Linked DNA regions of Homo sapiens: region 2 is linked to region 1. Evidence: fine-mapped expression QTL. Tissue or cell type: whole blood. Region 1 holds a variant in brackets; the other region holds the start of a gene. All regions are shown on one strand. Distances are between the middles of the regions.

The links. PIP is the estimated chance that this variant, and not a neighbour inherited with it, causes the effect.
Region 2: it holds the start of SECTM1, and the variant in region 1 is fine-mapped to the expression of SECTM1 in whole blood (INTERVAL, PIP 0.97).

What each region holds. Positions count from the first base shown.
Region 1 is chr17:82,395,335-82,398,016 of GRCh38, forward strand. The region is part of intron 8 of OGFOD3 (2-oxoglutarate and iron dependent oxygenase domain containing 3); the gene reads right to left. It overlaps LOC124904090 (a long non-coding RNA gene), which reads left to right and starts at 1,547. Exons shown (of 3, transcript XR_007065956.1): 1 at 1,547-1,955; 2 at 2,254-2,427. The variant A/G (reference allele first, on the strand shown) is at 1,252.
Region 2 is chr17:82,332,135-82,334,816 of GRCh38, forward strand. SECTM1 (secreted and transmembrane 1) reads right to left here and starts at 1,632. Exons shown (of 5, transcript NM_003004.3): 1 at 1,566-1,632. RefSeq lists a silencer at 1-259 and an enhancer at 136-938.

The DNA.
Region 1 (2,682 bases):
TGGTGGATTTTAATCCATTTCTTTTCACTGTAATAAACTACAGCCAAGGGTATAATGGCTTTGCTGAGTTCTGTGAGTCCCAACAGTGAGTCACTGGACCTAAAGGTGGTCTTGGGAACCCCCGAACACAGGACTCTGCCTTCCTCGATAAAGTTGCCCTACAAAGAAAACTAGCATTTGCCACTCATGGTAAGAACTGCGACACGGCCGGGCGTGGTGGCTCACGCCTGTCATCCCAGCACTTTGGGAGGCCGAGGCGGGTGGATCACGAGGTCAGGAGATTGAGACCATTCTGGCTAACACGGTGAAACCCCGTCTCTACTAAAAATACAAACAATTAGCCGGGCGTGGTGGTAGGCACCTGTAGTCCCAGCTACTCGGGAGGCTGAGGCAGGAGAATGGCGTGAATCCGGGAGGCGGAGCTTGCAGTGAGCCGAGATCGCACCACTGCACTCCAGCCTGGGCGACAGAGCGAGACTCCGTCTCAAAAGAAAAAAAAAAGTCTCCAAATCACAGGTAAACACATAGATACACACAATTAGACAGATGTACAACATCAAATCACAGGTAAACACATAGATACAATTAGATGTATGACATCAATCACGTAAACACACAGATACACACAATTAGACAGATGTATGACATCAAATCACAGGTAAACACATAGATACACACAATTAGATGTATGACATCAAATCACAGGTAAACACATAGATAACACACAGATGTACAACATCACAGGTAAACACAGATACACACAATTAGATGTATGACATCAAATCACAGGGAAACACATAGATACAATTAGACAGATGTACGACATCAAATCGCAGGTAAACACATAGATACACACAATTAGACAGATGTACGACATCAAATCGCAGGTAAACACATAGATACACACAATTAGACAGATGTATGACATCAAATCGCAGGTAAACACATAGATACACACAATTAGACAGATGTACGACATCAAATCACAGGTAAACACATAGATACACACAATTAGATGTACGACATCAAATCACAGGTAAACACACAGATACACACAATCAGACAGATGTACGACATCAAATCACAGGGAAACACACAGATACACACAATTAGATGTATGACATCAAATCACAGGTAAACACATAGATACAATTAGACATGTATGACATCAAATCACAGGTAAACACATAGATACAATTAGACAGACACATGCAGGAGACAGGTTGTTTTAATTATCTGAAAGAAGATCGT[A/G]ATACAAAATGTTTGACTCAAGTATTTATCATGCTTAAAATGACTAAGATCAAAATATGCTAAAAAGTTGTGTAATTTCGAGTCCCAGGAGGCTTCAGCTGCTTGACTTCTCAAGAAAACGCCTGTCTTGTGCTCTGTGAGTTTTTCATTTTCCCACAAAACTGCTGTGACTGGGACTTCTGGGGTGAGGGCAGACAGGCTGGGCTCCTGCTTGCAGAGGCTGGACGTCCAAACCCTTCCCCTAATGCAGAGATGACTCAGAACAACTGACATGAAGGCAGAGTGAGGCCAGGACACAGTCAGGCCAAACGCCCCCAATCCACGCCAGGGGAGACTGTGCCCAGGGCTGCGGCACACACGGCCTGAAGCCGGCTGCAGGGAGTGGGCTTGGCCAGCCGCTGGCTACAGCGGGAACTGTCCAGCCTGTGGCCAGGGAGCAGCTGAGGGAGGCAGGATGGCAGGAAGTGGCCGGGCAGCTCAGGCCACCTGCCACAGGTGGTCGTGGAAAGAGAGTCCCTCAAACTGAGCTTGCAAACTGAAGTCGTAAACTAACCTGAGAAAGGCAAGTACAAATAACAGGAATCTCAAAATAAACAAGCTGGAGATCTTAAAAGAGATGAAAGAAGTCCTGACTGTCACACAGTCCCTGGTCTGACTGAGCGGCCAGGCAGGAGGAACACCCGTGCTGAGAGGCCACCCCACAGGTGAGGGCAGTGCCCTGGGGACGGGTGAGGCAGCAGGGGGTGAGGGCAGTGTCCTGGGGACGGGTAAGGTAGTGGGGGGTGAGGGCAGTGCCCTGGGGACGGGTGAGGCAGCGGGGGGGGGGGGGTGAGGGCAGTGCCCTGGGGATGGGTGAGGCAGTGGGGGGTGGATGGTGCTGGCACAGTCCACAGGGCTCCCAAGCCTATGCGAGTTTCGGCTGCATCTGGGGTCAGGGCCGTGGGCTCCACCTGAGGAGGCCCCTAACAGGGGTTCCCCACTCCCCACACCCTCCCACCCCAGGATCTGGGCTTGTGTTACCCACAAGTTCAAGGAGCAGAGGATGACTGTCCGCTCGGCAAATGCTCACTGGCACTGCTGTGTCTGCAGCAGGCTGGGCATGGCTGGGGCTCTGGGACTCTGGGACTGCAAGGTCCAGTGTGATGGGTTCTGAAGCCGGCACCGCAGAGCCACCCGGTGAGGTTCCAGCCACCAGCGAGGAGGGCACTAGGTCACCGACACTGGGCTGGGGCCTCGTCTAATCTTAGGTTGCGAGTCTCTTTGAGAAGGGTACAGAGGTGAACGCACTCCAGAGGGGAGGGAGGGAGACCCTGACCGCCAAGGTGACACACACCAGGGAGGGAAATGGATGGTGCCTGTCAAGGTGACACACACCAGGGCGTGGAGGGGGGCTCTGCCGCTGACTGACGGTGACCTCAGACATGTGGCCCC
Region 2 (2,682 bases), 63 kb before region 1:
TCCGTCTCAAACCAAACAAAACAAAAAACAAACTTCTAGAGCGGGAAAAGATGGAGGCGGCAATCAGATTTCTCTCAAACCACGAACACAGGGGTCGGTATCTGAGGCGCCGGCACCAGACACGGCAGGGTCTGAGTGCTCCCTGACAAGCGATGATGCGCAGGCTTGGAGCCATGCCAGTGACACGCCTAGGAAAGTTCACGCACCGCCCAGCACGCCTGCGCATGCCTGTTCCCGCTCCCTGGTGCCCCGGGCGCCTGCCTGTCCCGGCTCCCATGGGTGCTGGGTGTGTGGAAGCTCCGGCCCCCTCGGGCTGGGTTCATTGGGGTCCTCCTGTGTGGTCAGTGGACTCTGTACCCCCACAGCACCTGAGGGGTGGCTGACACTGCTTTCCCAGCTGCTGCAGGGGCTCAGGGAACACAGGTGACCCCACGTCTCTACCGAGAATGAGCACACCAACACCTCTCAGAAGACAGCTGCAGCCTGCAGAGGCCATGGACCCCACCCAGGCCCACGGTGTGGACGGCTCTGCCCTGGTCTCTGCTGAGCCAGGCCCAGAGGGGACCCCAGGTGAGCAGCAAAGCCCCCCAGGCCTGGGGCTAGACCGGGCTAACCCTTCCTGCTCAGCACCTGTTCACCTGTCCCCTCTGCTGGTGGCCTCCTGTCCTCCCGCTCTGGGCTCAGCAGCAGCCCCGTGGAGAGGCCCTGCCACCACCCCCGCCCTGCTGGAGACAGGCCTCCTACGCGGGCTCCTGCAGCCGGTCGCCCTGGGCCTCCTAGAAGCCGGGGATCCTCTGCTGACCACCGGCAGAAAACGTGCTTCTCAAGCTGCAGGTGATTCACCAGTAGTGGGCAAGGAACTGAATGTGGTGATTACTGCGGAGTCAGCAAAACCCGCGTGAGAACGGGCAGCTGAGGGCCTGCCGGGTGAGGGAAGCCTCACGGTTCCTGTTTCATGAGTTTGCTGTGAGTGCACACGAGGCTGTGGCTGTGGAGTGTGCAACAGTCCACGCGTGCCTGCGTGTGCTCATGTGCGTGTGTCCACCAGCTTGTGTGCACGCATATGAGCGAGTGCGTTTTGCTCCCAGCTTGGTCGCAGCGACGGCGCAGGGAACCCCGGGTGAGGCCGAGGACCGGGAAGGGAGGAGGGGGCTCCGACCCATCGGACTTAGGGGAGCCCCGGGTCCGAGACGCCGCCTCTGTCCCTTCAAGAGTCGAGCCTGGCGCACAGGGCAGGGACGCGGGTCCCCACACCGGCCGGCAGCTCGTTCCCGCCCATACTCGGGTACGCCCGCTGCGACCCCGCCCGCCTGGCCTGCGACGCACGCTCAGGGCCAGCGGGGGGTGACGGTCCCAGAGGCAGAGGCGCCGCAGCCCCAGAGTCCCCATCCCTGCGCGGACCGGCAACCCCAGTGCACCAAGAGGCCCTAACACCGAGCCCCCAGCACCGAGTCCCCAGCACCGGGCCCTCAGCACCGAGTCCCCAGCACCGAGTCCCCAGCACCGAGTCCCCAGCACCGAGCCCGCCCCTCTGGTTCCCCCGCCCGCCCCTCTCCGCGCCTCACCGGGTCCGCTCCTGGACGCGCTCCTCTGGGATGCAGCTTCTCCGCGCCCCGGAGCCCCAGGAAAATGAAAGACACGAGAGGGAGGGGCCAGGGAGGAGGCGGCGGACCCGCGCGGGACCCACCTCCCAGATGAGGAAGGAGCTGGGTTTACGGGAAGCCTCCAAGTTTCGGGAACCACCCGCGTTCACAACAAGCGTGACGGTGAATTTATTATTTTCACGGGAGGCACCGCACCCGCGGTTCACGCTAAAGGAAGCAGGAAAGCCGCCGGGAGCATTTTTCCAGGAGAGTTCGTGCCTGGGCGGGTCCAGCTCGCGTGCGGCGCGCGTTCCCCGCGGGGCTGTTTGGCTCCGCTCCTGGAGGCCTCGAGTCTGTGCACGGGGCGAGCTGGGCGGGCCGAGTGGGCCGCGGGGAGGGAGGGCGGGGGGCGGCCCCCAGATGCCTGGGAGTGCGCGGGCAGAGTGAGCTGGACCCCCGGAGGGTCAGAGGCCCTTTCATAAAAGCGCGCAGAGCAGAGGAGTGATGTCCCCCAGCTCCCCCGCAGAGGGTCCTGCACCTGCGGCCTGGGCCTTCAGGCGTCCTGCGGCCCCTGCGGAGGTGCTGGCCTGGCCAGCCCGGGAGGAGGGGCCCAGCCTGTTGGGGCAGGAGATTGGGGTGCGGGTAGAAGGCTCCAAGACGCATCCGGGCCGGGAACCCACAGACATCCCAGGTGGGCAGGAGGTGGCTCGAGGAGGCCTGGAGGACCCGGCGCCTGGCGGGGTGGCAGGCGGGCCACGTCCTCCACTAGAACCCGAGGGGGCACGCGGGCAGGTGCGGGCGGGGTCAAGGATGACCAGGTATCTTCGGGACACTAGGAGGAGGCCCCACAGGCTGCAGTCACGTGAGTGGGCAAGTCCCCACCGGGCAGATGATGGGGGACACTGGGGCGTGGGCAATGCCCCCAGTTTCATGGAAGAGAGGAAGAAGCAGAACCAAACTCCGGGAAACCCTCAAATGTGGGGAATGGACGGAGCAGGGCCAGACTGGACGCTGAACCTTGGAGCCTGCAGCTCAGCCATCAGACCCAGGGTCCAGAGGTGGGTGGCACAGAACAAAGTCCCCCGGGATGTTCCAAAAG